Linked DNA regions of Homo sapiens: region 1 is linked to region 2. A link means that fine-mapping ties the variant in region 2 to the expression of a gene that starts in the linked region. Tissue or cell type: spleen. Region 2 holds a variant in brackets; the other region holds the start of a gene. All regions are shown on one strand. Distances are between the middles of the regions.

The links. PIP is the estimated chance that this variant, and not a neighbour inherited with it, causes the effect.
Region 1: it holds the start of AHCYL2, and the variant in region 2 is fine-mapped to the expression of AHCYL2 in spleen (GTEx, PIP 0.95).

What each region holds. Positions count from the first base shown.
Region 1 is chr7:129,220,186-129,228,291 of GRCh38, forward strand. It overlaps AHCYL2 (adenosylhomocysteinase like 2), which reads left to right and starts at 4,845. Exons shown (of 17, transcript NM_015328.4): 1 at 4,845-5,254. The coding sequence starts at 4,892. RefSeq lists silencers at 1,823-2,117, 4,739-4,808, 4,929-5,178 and an enhancer at 4,349-4,458.
Region 2 is chr7:129,384,226-129,392,331 of GRCh38, forward strand. It overlaps AHCYL2 (adenosylhomocysteinase like 2), which reads left to right. Exons shown (of 17, transcript NM_015328.4): 3 at 4,831-4,974; 4 at 5,409-5,509. Among named protein-coding and RNA genes, the nearest start is that of STRIP2, 46 kb to the right of the region's middle. The variant A/G (reference allele first, on the strand shown) is at 5,027.

The DNA of each region.
Region 1 (8,106 bases), 160 kb before region 2:
TGTGGTAATGCGTGCCTGTAATCCCAGCTACTCGGGAGGCTGAGGGAGGAGAATCGCTTGAGCCTGGGAGGCGGAGGTTGCAGTGAGCCGAGATCCTGCCATTGCACTCCAGCCTGGGCAACTGTGTGAGACTCCATCTAAAAAAAAACAAAAAACAAAAAACCACAAAAAAACAGGCTGGGCACGGTGGCTCATGCCTGTAACTCTAGCACTTTGGGAGGCCAAGGCAGGCAGATGGCCTGAGCTCAGAAGTTTGAGACCAGCCTGGGTAACATGGTAAAACCCCGTCTCTACTAAAATATGAAAAATTAGCTCGGCATGGTGGTGGGTGCCTTTAGTCCCAGCTACTCGGGAGGCTGAGGCAGGAGAATTGCTTGAACCTGGGAGGCGGAGGTTGCAGTGAGCCGAGATTGCGCCACTGCACGCCAGCCTAGGCAACAAGAGCGAGACTCCGTCTCCAAAAAAAAAAAAACAACTAGAAGTTCGAGACCAGCCTGGGCAACATAGCAAGAGCCCTACTCTACCAAAAACATTTTTTTTTAATTAGCCAGGTGTAGTGGTGCAAACCTGTAGTTCCAGTTACTTGGGAGGCTGAGGTGGGAGGATTGCTTGAGCCCAGGAGGCAGAGGTTGCAGTTAGCTATGATTATGCCACTGCACTCTGGCCTGGGCAGCAAGAGTGAGACTCTGTCTCGAAACAAAAAACCAAAGTTTTCTTCATATGTCTGGTGACTTTGGTTGTCTGTTCATACTTAAGAATGTGACACTAAATTGTTCACGGAAGCTCTGTGAACATGAGTATGGTCTTCAGGGCGGGTGATCTGGCTGGCTTATTTCCTTTGGAAACTCTCAATGTTAGTATCTTTGTTTTCTCTCTTGGATTGGTCAGATACCTCAGAGAAATTCTTCTTTTTTTTTTTTTTTTTTTTTGAGACACAGTCTTGCTCTGTTGCCCAGGCTGGAGTGCCGTGGCGCAATCTCAGCTCACTGCAGTCTCTGCCTCCCAAGTTCAAGCAATTCTCCTGCCTCAGCCTCCCGAGTTGCTGGGACTACAGGCGTGTGCCACCACACCCAGCTAATTTGTGTATTTTAGTAGAGACGGGATTTCACCATGTTAGTCAGGCTGGTCTCAAACTCCTGACCTCGTGATTTGCCCGCCTTGGCCTCCCAAGTGCTGGGATTTCAGGTGTGAGCCACCGTGCCTGGCCAAGAAATTCTTCTTTATTGGCCGGGCGCGGTGGCTCAGGCTTGTAATCCCAGCAGTTTGGGAGGCCAAGGCGGGCAGATCACGAGGTCAGGAGATTGAGACCATCCTGGCTAACATGGTGAAACCCCGTCTCTACTAAAAATACAAAAAATTATCCGGGTGTGGTGACACGTGCCTGTAGTCCCAGCTACTCGGGAGGCTGAGGCAGGAGAATTGCTTGAACCCAGGAGGCAGAGGTTGCAGTGAGCCGAGATCATGCCACTGCACTCTAGTCTGGGCGATGGCACGAGACTCCATCTCAAAAAAAAAAAAAGAAAAAGAAAAAAAGAAATTCTTTTTTATACCAATGTCCTGCATGGACGTTACATTCCTGCTTGCCAGCGTTCTGGAAGCTGAATGAGCCGGGTGAAGGAAGAAGACCTGTAGTCCAAATATTTCATTAAATAGTTCATAAACTGGTGCTTAATTACCCTGTTTCTAGTATGTAATTTGATCTTCAACTGTACCTGGTGTCCCTCAGCTACAAGGATGGCAGAAGCAGCAGGTATGTAGGGATGGAGTTGACAACAGGTTGAAGAATGTGTCCTGATGGTTGGCCCCAATCAGTGGTGGTGACTGGAATAAAACAGGGTATCAGTTTCATTCCAGTGCTCTAACTCCTTATATTTTATAACCACATCACACTGAAGAATTAATTCATCCTCTCAGTAATCAATTCTAGTGGCAGGTAGGCAGCTGCTGCCTATGAGCTCCAACACATGCCAGGTGGCTGTACCGTAGCTCCCTTGAGCATTAGGGGGAAGAATGAAATCAGTTACAGAGCTGCTAATCTCTGCTCCGACAGCTGGAGGATGAAGCTCTGGGCTGGTTTCTTTTTAACAGGAAGGAAATTCTGAAAGCCGGAATGTGAAGAAAAAACTTAAGAATCTCTTGTGTCTTGTGAGCTCTGTGGAAATGGCAGTGCTCAGATGCCTTCCGACATGTACTGTGAGGCACAAATTTGGAGATCAGGAAATGAGAGCCTCCATTCAAGGCAGGACAACCACACAGAGTGAACAGATTTCCAAAATAGTAGGACAGGAAAGAAGATCGAGGCAGGTGATTTCTCTCCCTTCTCCTTCTTTTTTTTTGAGACAGAGTCTTGCTCTGTTGCCCAGGCTGGAGTGTAGTGGTGCAATCTCGGCTCACTGCAACCTCCACCTCCTGCGTTCAAAGGATTCTCCTGCCTCAGCCTCCTGAGTAGCTGGAACTACAGGCAGAAGCCACCACGCCTGGCTAATTTTTGTATTTTTATTAGAGATGGGGTTTCACCACGTTGGCCAGGCTGGTCTCGAACTGCTGACCTCAAGTGATCCACCCGCCTCGGCCTCCCAAAGTGTTGGGATTACAGGTGTGAGCCACCATGCCTGGCCTCCTTCCTTCTCCTTGCCAGGCAAAACACAGTGACACCAAAGACTAGATGTCTAAAGAGTAGCTGTCCAGTGGCTGCCTGGGTTGTTAGGGCTGTAAGTCTCTGAAACAGCTGTAAACTGTATGAACCCCTTTGCTCCTGTTTCTCTGAGCATAGAGAGGAACCCCCCCCATAATCTGTCGCGAGTCAACTGCATTTTGTTTTTTTAAAGTATTCTTTTTTTTTTTTTTTTTTTTACGAGACGGAGTCTTGCTCCGTCGCCCAGGCTGGAGTGCAGTGGGGCGATCTCTGCTCACTGCAAGCTCTGCCTCCTGGGTTCACGCCATTCTCCTGCCTCAGCCTCCCGAGTAGCTGGGACTACAGGCGCCCGCCACCACGCCCGGCTTATTTTTGTATTTTTAGTAGAGACGGGGTTTCACCGTGTTAGTCAGGATGGTCTCGATCTCCTCACCTCGTGATCTGCCTGCCTCGGCCTCCCAAAGTGCTGGGATTACAGGCTTTTTAAAGTATTCTTTACATAAAATCTTATGGCATGTGCAATTTTGTCTCTTGCTTCTTAGCTTAATGTTTTTATCATAAGCATTTATTCTGAAAGCCAGAATGCCTTGATCTTCTTTCCTGTGCTATTACGATTTTGGAAATCTTCACTTCGTGAAGTTGTCCTGCCTTGGAGTCTCTCATTTCCTGATCGCCAAATTTGTGCCTCACACTATGTATCGGAAGGCGTCTGAGCACTGCCATTTCCACAGAGCTCACAAGTGTACCAGACACAAGAGTTTCTTAGCTTCCTCTTCACATTTTGGCTTTCAGAGTAAAGAATGAAAAAGGGAAAACCTTGTTGTTAAAAAGTATTGGCAAACAATTTTCTTTCTTTCTTCCTTTTTTTCTGGGACGGCATCTCACTCCGTTGTCCAGGCTGGAGTGCCGTGGCATGATCTTGGCTCACTGCAGCCTCTGCCTCCCAGGTTCAAGCGATCCTCCTGCCTCAGCCTCCCAAGTAGCTGGGATTTCAGGTGCCCGCCACCACGCCTGGCTAATTTTTGTATTTTTAGTAGAGATGGGGTTTCACCATGTTGGCCAGGCTGGTCTTGAAGTCCTGATCTCAAGTGATCTGCCGGCCTTGGCCTCCCAAAGTGCTGGGATTACAGACGTCAACCACTATGCCCAGCTGGCAAACGATTTTCAAAGGCTGTAACAATTGCTCTATTTGTTGGACATTAGTTTTAGACAGTTTTTTGTTATTAAAAAGGACGCTGCGGTGCATGTCTTTTTGCTTACATCCTCTAAATGTAAAATTTAAAAATAATACAGAAAAGTACAAAGTAAAAATCACCTTAAATCCCATCACTTAGGAAATTAACTACTCATATTCACTATTCATATCCCTCTATGCTGATATATGTATCTGAATTTCAGATGATTGCCCTATTAGAATTATAGGTGAAAAGATTTGGCCTCGTTTAAGGCAACGTGTAATTCCTCAGCCTTGAATTTTGATCTAGTGATACCTAACTTCTTTGAGGAATGATCTTAGCTTCCAAACCCAGAATGTGACAGAAAGCGCCACAGCAAGCAAGGTCCTACTTTATCCCTTCTAAAAACAAAGCCACTGAAGTTTGGAAGGGTGTTGAGTTCTCAATATCACAAAGAAAAATAAAGCCACTTCCAGCCTGGAGCCGCCGCTTCTCCTTTAAATACTCGCTCACGTGATCGCAGACGGGCACGCGCGGAGGAACTTCACGCTGTCAGGACAACGAGCCATTCCTCTACCACTTCCCCTCCCCTAAGGCTTCTTGGCGTTCCCTCCCCGGAAGTCACAACTCCTCTGGAGACTTTCTCTTCCTCATCCCCTCCGTCGAGTCACCTATCCTCACTCCTTTCTGTTAGCTGCCGGCCCTAGCGCTCCCTCTCCTCGGCTGAATCTCACTTAGTGGAGGAAAGGCTGAAAGGACTACAACTCCCAGGGGACGCTGCGGGCCCCGCCCATGGGGCGCGCAGTGTAGGTCGGGGCCTGAGGTCCCACGGTCTTCTCGCCGCGTGCGGCCGGGAGCAAACGCACTACAGGTTCCGTGGCGCCTCGCGCGAGGCCAGACCGGGACGGGGCGGGGCGGGGCTGGAGGGGCCGGGACTGGCGGGCGGAGAAAGGGGGTGGGAGAGGAGGCGATGGAGGGGAGGAGTGGGGACATGGGGGAGGGAAGAGGAAGGGAGGTGGGAGGCGGGGCCGACCAAGAGCAGGAGCTGGAGTCTGAGCCGGTGGTTGCAGCGGAGGCGGTGATGTCGGTGCAGGTTGTGTCAGCCGCGGCTGCCGCCAAGGTGCCTGAGGTGGAGCTGAAGGACCTGAGCCCCTCCGAGGCGGAGTCGCAACTAGGACTGAGCACGGCCGCCGTGGGCGCCATGGCCCCCCCGGCGGGCGGTGGAGACCCTGAGGCTCCAGCTCCCGCCGCGGAGCGGCCCCCGGTCCCCGGCCCGGGCTCGGGGCCCGCCGCCGCTCTCAGCCCCGCCGCCGGGAAGGTGCCTCAGGCGTCGGCCATGAAGCGGAGCGACCCACATCACCAGCACCAGCGGCACCGCGACGGCGGCGAGGCCCTGGTCAGCCCCGACGGCACCGTCACCGAGGCGCCGCGCACAGTCAAGAAGGTACTGGGGCCGGGCTGCCTCTCTAGGAGAGGAAGGGAGGGGAGGGGAACTGCAGATCCTCTCGGCACGGCGGCACCACCCTCCACGCCCTCCTTTCTGATCGCAGGACCGGAGATACCCCTTGTCCCCTTAAACCCACTCTCTCAGAGATGCCCCCCAGCCGGCCCCTCGTGCTGGGAGCGGAGACTCCAGGAGGCACGGCCGTACTTCGCTCTGAATAACATGGAGGTAGCGCTCTCCCCTACTACTTGGAATAGGCAGCGGGAGGAGAGACACCTAATAGTACGTCCCGCGGCCCCAACACGCTCCCGGGTGTGATTTTCCAGCCTATCGGGGAAGAGACCTCGATAGTATAGAAAAACCTTACCGCTCACGGGAGTTCACACAGCAATAAGGATGAAAAGATCTTTAATACTTGGAGAACGAGTAAGGTGTAGTCACCTTGCATAGAAATCGTCAGAGTTGTCTGGTTTCCATACAGTTGATGACTTTCTGCCTTTCTGTGGCCAACCGTGGCCATACAGCAACACGATGCTGTGCCCTTCATTTCCAGCGACTGCGATATTCTCTCTTCCCTGAATATGTAAAAGGGTAATGGAGAGATTCTCCTCACTCTTTCGTGTTAAGAGCTTTGTCCTCCCTGCTGGGTATAGTTGGTCACCAGGATTATTAGGCTGTGTATGAAGAGAATGAATGTCTTATTGATTGCTTTATTATAATCTGAAAGTGATAGGAAGAAATGCTGCTACTTTTGGGAAAGACGATCTTTGTGGGGTTTTCGGTCTTAGGCGTCAGCTTCTTTCAGACAGTTTTGAGGAGGTCTCAGAATACCAAGAAGTAACTGCCTAGGTGGATGATAGCCCTGTATTACCCGTACATTGTCTATCCATAGTTGTCTGTCTCTCTCAAAGCTTGTCTTTCTTTCTCTCTTAAAGCTGAATCAGCACAGAAAAACAGGGCAAGTATTGGAAAAGACAGAAGTGTGGATCATATAAAAAGGGCTTACAGCTTCAATTTCGTAGACACAGTATGGGCACAGGGATTAATGTTTTTTTTAAATTGTTGTGAATGGTTTTTAATTGCTTTATCAGAACAGCAACAAAGAGACGGGAAGTGTGCATTGGTTTTACTGTGTGGGACCAGCTGAATTGGAACCTTGGATCCACCATAACTTTTTGTTGTCATAGCGTCATGATTAAGGTATAGCGGATAATCCTTTCATCCTAACGATACAAATTTAGGTGATAAGTCAGAGGCAAGACTGAAGGAATTTCTGTAATGCTTTAGACAATGTCTTTGTCGTTTGTAGTATGAAACTCCTCTGGGAAGAATTAGAGTAGAAAGAGGCAGCATCCTGCAGAAATGGGTTTAAAGAAAAAAAGTAAAGTAAAAAAGAGAGGCAGCAGCAGCACCAGTGCTGGGAGTACCTAGATCTGAGTCTGGAAATCCAAAGCATACTTCTGACTTGTTGAGATACTTTGTATCGTTAAGTCATTTTCTTGTGATAAAGACTGTTTTTGTCTAAACTTTGTAATTTGGTTAGATTTCTTTAGGCTAAAAGTGTTTAACAAATTGCTTTTAGAGCATGAAGTTTACAGTCAGGCAGACCTGGATTTGAAGCCTAGTACCCCCATTACTACCTTTTGGGTAATTTCCAAATTACACAAATCAGTTTCCTCTTCTATAAAATGAAAGTACTAATTATGATTGAGGATTAGAAATATTTGTAAAAGGTTTAGCATTGAGCTTGGCACATAAAGTCTTAAATGATATTCTTACTAATGCTTTTATTATTATGAATAATTGATTTTATTTTATTCCTCCCATCATGGCTTAAGTGCAAGCCCCCATGACCACCTCTGAAAGTTACACACAGTTCAATATATTCTATATAAAGAAATTAAAAAATCATGGCTCACGTCTGTAATCCCAGCACTTTGGGAAACCACGGCTGGTGGATTGCTCGAGTCCAGGAGTTTGAGAACAGTCCGGGCAACATGGTGAAAACCTCTCTCTCCAAAAAAAAAAAAAAAAAAAAGAGCCGGGCATGGTGGTGTGTGCCTATAGTCCCAGCTACTCAGGAGGCCGGGGTGGGAGGATCACCTGAGCCCAGGAAGTTGAGGCTGCAATGAGCACTCTAGCCTGGGTGCTGGAGTGAGACCTTGTCTCAAAAAAAAAAAAAAAAAAAAAAAAGTTAAAAAATCAAAGACCAGCATACTGGAGTCTGTTTTTCTTAATTCTAGATGTGCTTCTTGACCACTTTCCTTGTCGTTGAACCATCTTCCTGTTTTTTCAGCACCAAATGTATGTTCCATGATTGTAGATATACTCAGCAGCCTCAAGGCTATTGTAAAGCAGGGCTGAGCTTGCCTTACAATGTTAATTGCACCAAAAAAACAACTTCTCTGCTGAAAGTTAAGCAGGTGAAGCTCTGGGCAAGGATACAGCTGGATGACGAAATTCAGGGCATTGCTGAGCTGCTTTTCAGGTGCCCAATCTTTAACCTTCTTGATATTGAATTGGCTAAATCAAAATAAGTGCCCAAGACTGCCCTTTCCCTAAGTTGAAAGTCATCTCACCAAGGAACTGCAGTGTGACATTTTGATTTGTTGAGCCTTTGTTGATTCTTAGATTGTCTATGTAAATAACCACTTTGACCTTGACTCCTTACTGTTTTTCTTATAGCATATGAAGGAACTGAGAATACTAGTATTGAAATAGCTGCCTTTGGCTGTGGAACTGGTGACTGTTGCATTTGTTTTTTAACTTTCATGTATAAACATTTATTTTAAGTCACATTTCCATAGATGGTTTTCCTTACTTCATTCACATATCATCAGTTTTCTTAGTTT
Region 2 (8,106 bases):
ATATATGATAATATATATCATATATATTATGTTGCTAATATGTTTTGCTAATATATCATATATATGATAATATATATCATATATATTATGTTGCTAATATGTTGCTAATATGTTTTGGTCTTTTCCTTTCTATTTAAATGCAGGATCCATGAGAACAGAGATTTTTTTTTTTTCTGTTTTACATTGCTCTATTCCCAGCACTTAGAACTGTGTTTGACACAGAAGAGGTACTCAATAAATAAATATTGGTGAAAGGTGTTCAGAGACGTTATACTTTTATACCCTTGTTGAGGTCCCTAATATACTCAGTGTGTATGAACAACAAAAGCAGGTTTATGAGATTTCAAAAAAAGATACTTTCCTGTCCAAAGTGCTTGTTTTGCTGAAGATACTCAGAGGCTTACATAGGCTCTAGCCTCGTCTCCCTTCCTAAGGCTCCTAGTACTAAGTTTTGCCATGCTTTCATTTAGGAACCTCTGCCAGCTTTTCTCAACCAGGGATCCTCATCTGAATCACAGAACACAGAAAATGATTTTATAGACTTTTCTTAATTTTCCAAAAGATGATACATAACTAGTACTTTCCAGATGCGTAGGAGAGAAGTTAATTCATTATGTACAATGGATGCTTCAAGGCATTAGGACTTAATTTCTAGCAGAACCCAGGTTGAAAAACGCTGCATTAATCCACGAAACTATTTTATAAGAAGCAAACTTCTAAAAAACTCTTCCCCTAAGGAAAAAAACCTCATAAAAACAAATGAACAGAAGAGACTTCTTTTTTAATCAGACCGTTCTCAGTGATATATTTCTGAATAAGCTGTCTTTGCAATGAGTTACTTGGTTAAGGATGAGGAAAGAAGACAGAAGTCCCTTCTTCACGATTGGTTCTTTTTGTTCCCAAACTCTACAATTCTTATAAAGTTTGAGATATTTTCAGATTTTTCCAAACAACAAAATTTTGTGTTTGTATTTGGGATGCTAGCATAGCTTTTTACACATTTCCAGAGTGTTACTCATCAGTGAAGTCTGCTATAACCCGACACACAGGTCCCTACTGTTATTTCCATTACCAAATGAATAGGTTAGGCCCAAGAGGAATTGCCTGACATAAAATAGTCTAATAGGACTAATTCAGTCAGGGTTCTGACTGCTGCTTCTCCTAGCAGTAACTCACAGTATCACAGCTGCTGAGAGGTAAAGCTTAATCAGGCTTGAATCATAAAATGTGTATACATGTTCTGTGAGATAGATTGTGGATTCTTGATTCATCATGCTGTCTTTTGATTTTGGAAAATAATGAAACAAGATAACATCCCATAGTAAAGTTATATTGTACTTCATACTACTTTTCTACGTAGAAACTGAACCCTTTTGGTTATCATCTCATTTATTCGTAAGATTTTTCCGGTGGTAGTTGGGGGAAAGAGAGAGCATGAGGAAAGAGGGAATCTGTTACAGTTTACAGTTGGATAAATTGAAAATTGGTCACTTAACCACTTAGGGTTGAAGCTAGATCTAGGATCTCAGGACTACTTTAGTAGGTTATTGGTTGTTCTTGTTTATTTAAATTATGACTCTGGGCTTTAGAGTATGCTGACAATTACAAATATTTTAGAAACTCTGTTCAAGTGTGTTTGTACATACGTGTTGGGTTTCTCTAAATTTTCCTAGGAACAGTCCTTAATACTATCTCAACTGTCATCATGAGTTTGTTACTCTGTGGCAGAAATGAGTACGGATTCAAAGAATAAATGAGTAAATTTATTTATTCATTTATTTATAATTCATTCATTTATAATTCAGCAATAACCTTTCCACTGTGTTTGCAGAACTAATAATATATTCTCTTGGTCTGGATCTGTCAGCCATGTCGTATCCACATAGTAGTACAATCTAGACAACTGATATTTTTGGTTCTTACCTGATAGCAGGTCCGTATAAAGGGCTCTTTGAGGCCGGGCATGGTGGCTCAAGCCTGTAATCCCAGCACTTTGGGAGGTCAAGGTGGGCGGATCACCTGAGGTCAGGAGTTCAAGACCAGCCTGCCCAGCATGGCGAAACCCCGTCTCTACTAAAAAGGCAAAAATTAGCCAGGCACCGTGGTGGGCTCCTGTAATCCCAGCTACTAAGGAGGCTGAGGCAGGATAATTGCTTGAACCCAGGAGGCGGAGGTTGCAGTGAGCTGAGATCGTGCTACTGTGCTCCAGCCTAGGTGACAGAGTAAGACCCTGGCTCAAAAAAAAAAAAAGGGATCTTTGAAAACAAATACATTTTGGCTCAAAGAAAAACATTGGTTGAATTAACTGTAACTACTTGACTCCTGTTAAGAAAGTAAAACACTGTTTTTTCCAGGTTTTAGAATAGAGAAGTGGTGTAAAGATTTTTTTCTTTGAGTTGGTGTGGGGAAATGGTAAAGCCAGAAATTGGAATGCTTCTCTTAAGGGGAAATTTTCAAATTTTGTTTTGCTTTTTGGTTTTCTTCTGACTCATTCTTAGAAACTAAAGAGGCATAGGAAGGGCAATCTCTTCTGGGTAGAGTTAGGACTCCAGTCTCAACCTCTCAAATCACTGCCAGCCAACCACCTGCTGTTTGGGTAGATTAGTAGGAGATGATGGAGGTATAAAAAAAGATAAACTGCTAAATGATTATGTATGTATATCATTCTTTTCCCATTCAAAATCTTAAAGCTGAGTAAGAACCCTTAAAGATGTTATATCTGGAACTGAATTTAAAATATGTGCTAAAGTGGGTAATATCAGGTATCATTTATTGAGTGCTTAATTACTGTATGCCAAGCATTGCAGTAAACACTTTACATACATTATCTTACTTAATCTGCTTAACAACTTGACTCTGACAAGTCATGTTCTCCTATTATATAGTCTTATGACATCCTGATTTCTGCTTTATAGCACACATTACAGATGTATTTTTTAAAGCTCTAAATAATTAATTTTGTAACTAGTTATTTCTTTTTTGACTCACTGACTAGACTGAAAACTCCATGAAGATAAGGACCATCTATATCTGTCCTGTATTTCCAGCACCTAGGCTATGCCTAGTACATAATAGATGCATAACTAAAATTTGAATAAACACCTGAGTGTGTGAATGACTGAATACGTGAATAAATTAACAACTCTTTCAAACGGATCAGCTCCACTTTATACACCCAAAAACAGAGACTGAGACTTAAACCAAAGACTGACTCCAGAACACATGACCGCTATATTTAAATGGCCATTGGGAAGCATAAAAATCATCATGACTCTGAAAAAGAATTTGAGATTTCAGGATATTCTGAATATGAACACTTTCTTCAAAAGTAATTTTCCATAAATCTGGATCGGGATTAGAGATGGCTGTTATCTTTTTATCTCTCAGGTGGTAGAAGCATGGTTCCCCTAAGCCTCTGATTTATTAGGTATTTCTGAATATTGATTAGTAAAACAGATGACTTCCCAGAAAGCTGTGTCTGGGTTCTGTTGCCAAAAGTACTTTGAGCTTTCACTCACCCTAGGAGAGGGAACCACAAACTTTTTGTACAGATTAGCTCCTTTCAAGAACAAAAGTCTCTTTGGGGATTTACTAATTCCCTCACCTCCCCTGGTGCCCATGTTCATTCCTGTTGCCTCGTGTTAGGACTTTGCTCCAGCTCCAAAAGAGATTCTGAAGCCCCTGCTGCCCAAATGGTTTGTAGTGCCATGCCTGATTAACTGGGCAAGGTCAGACTTGCCTTTTACAGCCCTCGCAGAGGTAGACCCTTTGCTAAGAAATCTCAGAAATGCCTTAATTCTCTGCATATAAGTAGATCAGAGCATCGTAGACCGTAGGCACTCTGAGCTTTCACAGTTTTCTACCCTTAAAAGTGATGGCAGTACTTATTCCATTGAGAGATACAAAGCGTTTTCTAGAGAGTGTTTCTTAACCCCCCAAAAAACTTGGGGGTTAAGAACTATCTTCAGAAGCTCAAACACAAATCAGGGAAGGACACTGCTTCAAATAATCTAGCAAATGGTTAGTAACTACAGAATCCTATGAAGACTAAAAAGACCCCAGCTAAGCATGTGAATAGTAGTAGCAGCAGCTGCCTGTTAACCACGATAAAAAGTTTTAGGCCTTTCACACTCTAGTATATGTTGCTAAATGGATTAGTTATCAGAGCATTTTATTGTACCAAAGGAGGATTTATTCACTTCTTTGGGAGTCTAAAATGCCTAACGCCAGACCTACTGAGGCCAGCAAGAAGGGAGAGCACATTGAATACTTCATTGTCAATGTCTAATTGGGTCTGCAGGCACAATTCAGCCTCATCAGAGTCCGTCTTAAAAAAGAAAGCTCTGTTAGGTCAGACAAATACTTTTTGTGTGGTTCTTAATTACTTTCCCATGGATTCCTTGTTTTCTAGGTCTTATCTGTTCAGTAATTGTACTAAAACACAAATTATATCAAACATTTAAGCAGCACACAGAGCAGAGTAGTTAGAATCCCAAAAACCCATATGTTAATGACCACGATCTTGCATTAGGAACTTTAACCTAATGCTACCATGGTGTAACCTTTTCTTTTTGCGTATTCAAGGACCTCTGCGTGTTCTGAAGATAAAGTTAGCCCTACATTTCAAGTTAAGGCTATCCAGGAAGAATGTCTTTGGCAATCTCTTTCAGCTTCCCTCTTCTGGCATGTGTATAGCCTGCAGGTACTTAACAGAGGTAAAAAAATTTATATGGTGCTAGGTGGCTAGAGAAGCTTCAGTTTGCTCCATGGTTTGGAATTTTAGAGGAAGCATTTTTTTTTTTCCGAGTGTTTTTTATTCTGTCATTCCAGCGGCTTCATATACAGATAGCTCTGATGATGAGACATCGCCCAGGGACAAGCAGCAAAAGAACTCTAAGGGAAGCAGTGACTTCTGTGTTAAGAACATCAAACAGGCAGAGTTTGGACGAAGAGAAATTGAAATTGCTGAACAAGGTAAAGAAAACAAGCACCTTTTCCTTCTTAACCTACCTGTGTCTTTTTGTCC[A/G]TATTAATCCCTTTTTATGTCTGGGGTCTGGTAGCTTGTGAAATTTCTATGTGATAAGAATACTTATAACAAAAGAAATGTGAGTTCAAGAAACACTGGGGAAATCTGGCAAGTCTAGAAGGAACCCTGTATTAAAAAAAAAAAAAAAAAAGGGAGAGAGACTGGATAAGGACTGGAATATAGAGAATCAGAACCCTGGAGCATTTGCCTCCAAAAGCCCTTTATAAAGGAAAATACAGGTTTAATGTCTTGATCCCTGGAGAAACCTAATCTAACCTGATCAGGGGAAGGATCTTAACTTAAGAAAACAAGTTTTTCTGTTTGTTCTTTTATCTCTTATTCCTTCTTCTTTAATATTGCTGTATTTATTGGGCCTTTTCAGAAATGCCTGCATTGATGGCTTTGAGGAAGAGAGCTCAAGGAGAAAAGCCTTTGGCTGGAGCCAAAATCGTGGGTTGCACACACATCACTGCTCAGACTGCTGTGAGTTCTTTTCTTTTCTCCTTTTAATTACAATAGTTAATAATAGCCACGAGCTACTGAAAGCTTACAACATGCCAAGCACCGAGTTAAGAGCTTAACAAGTATTAGCTTATTAATCCTTATAATGGCCATATAAAGCAGGTATTCTTGTTTCCATTTTATAAACGAAGAAGCTGAGGCTCAGAGGGCTTAAGATATTTGTTTAAGGTTATACAGCTAGAAATCACAGAGTCAAGATTTTAACTTCAATATACAGTAGTCCCCCTGCCTTGTCTGTGGGGGATAAGTTTCAAGACCCCTAGTGGACACCTGAAACTTCAGACAGTACTGAACCCTATATATACTATGTTTTTTCCTATACATATATACCTATAATCAAGTTTAATTTATGCAATTGGCCCTGCATGTCCACCAGTTCTGCTTCCTGAGGATTTGACCAACTGCAGATCAAAAATATTCAGAAAATAAAATAATACAACAATACAAAATAACAAGAAATATAACAACTATTTACATAGCATTTACACTGTATTGGGTACTATAAATAACCTAGAGATGCTTTAAAATATACAGAAGGATGTGCACAGATTATATGCAAACACTGCATCATTTTATATAAGGGACATGAGCATCCTCAGATTTTGGTATCCATGGGAGTGCTGGAATAAATCCCCTGAGGATACTGAGAGACAGCTATAAATTCAGCACAGTAAGAAATGAACAACAGTAACTCAAAATAAAAGAGAGCAATTACAACAACAGACTGTAATAAAAGTTATGTCACATAAAGGAATTTATCACAGTACATAGCAGAAAGTCCAAAGGGAAGGCAGACTTCAGATGCAGGATCTCAGGGCTCCAGCTTCACCTCTCTGATTCTCTTGGAGCTGCCTCCTCAGTATGCTTACTTCACCCTAAAGCTGATAGCAAGATGCTTACAACTATTCTAGTCATCACAAACTGACATGAAAAGGAAGAGGGACCATTTCTTCCTCACTCAAGAGAAGTCCCTCCAGGATACTCCATCGTGTCTCATTGGGCAGAACTGGATCATGTATCTGTGCTCCACCAGTCCTACCGAGGGGCGTGGAATTACCATGATTTGCTTACACCAGTGATTCCTACCTTACTCTCATCAGTTTTAATGTCCCCTTTTTATTAAAAAACTTTTTTTTTGCAGTGTCCCTGAACTATCCTGAAATGAAATTCAGATATAACATGTCCAGGTACATATAATCTTTAAAAATAAATCAATATAAAATCTTAACTGAAATATGAAGGAGGAATAAAAAAAGTACAATACTTAAAATAATGTGTATTTCAATATGTAAATACTTGAGGACAACTATAGTAGAACAATCAGATATTTGTACTATTTCACAGTATTATTTGAAATAGTATTATTTGAAGACAGAAATAAATGTGTTATTGATTCCAGAGCATCAGAGCAGCATTGCCATGATTTTCTGAAATAGTAAACAACTTTTTGTAATCTTCTAAACAATAAGAACAACAAAAAGTATGAGTTTTCTCTTCATTTACATAGCTGTTACATTCCTGGAAAAACTATTGTTTTGTATTAAAACTACAAAACTACTTTTTGCTAATTTGTAAAGTGGAATTAGGTTCTAAACTCAGATAATTGTAGATAGGTTTTTCACCCATGGGAACTTTTATTGGGACATTTGAAAATTGTACCAGCTGCAACACAGTTTTTTGTTGAGACACTTTCAAAATGTCCAGATTCCTGGTCCTGCCCACTAAATGCCAATAGCACTCCCCTTCCAATTATTGTGGCAACCAAAAATGCCCCCACAATTTTCTAGATCTCCTCTTTTATCACCAGAGATGCAATATATATGGAGTTGCTAACCATAATGAGACCACTATCGGGAAATTGTTATATTGAGCAGTGGTCTGGAATCTTTTATGGGGATTCATAAGATCTGGGTCATCTGTGTGGCTAGATCAGCTTTCCAAAGATTGTCTCTCCCAAAGCACAACACTTATGTGGTCACATTCCTGATTAAGAACATTAGAGATTCCTCAAGGTACAGACAGCTTCTATTAGCATCTTCACTATGAAACTTTTCTGGGTTATGTGTTCTCTGAGGACAAGAGTACCCTGACTGCTCAAAATTAATATAATAAATTGAAAAGCTATCTGTTTTGGAGCTACAAACTAATGAATCAAGACAGAAACACTCTTGAATCTTTTTTGGCCTGCTCAGTCAGCGACATGAGACTTCAGTGTGGTAGCTTAAAATAGTAAGTGCTTCTCTACTGTCTCATGTTGCTGAATTACATCTAGTTTGTTTTTTACCCTTAGGCTCAGTGAGCATTACCACCTTTCATGGTTCCCTTTCTATTTTTTTCCTGAATGGATTGATCACAATTAGCTTACCAATTTTAATATTAATTTATTGTTTCCACCCCACATTTTTTTCCTTTAAAAAAATAACGACAAAGAAATTATGCTTTGTTTGCCAACCTAATACTCTTTCACTCTTGTCTTAGTTCATTTGGGCTGCTATAACAAAATACCTTAGACTGGGTAATTAATAAACAATAGATATTTATTGTTCACAGTTCTGGAG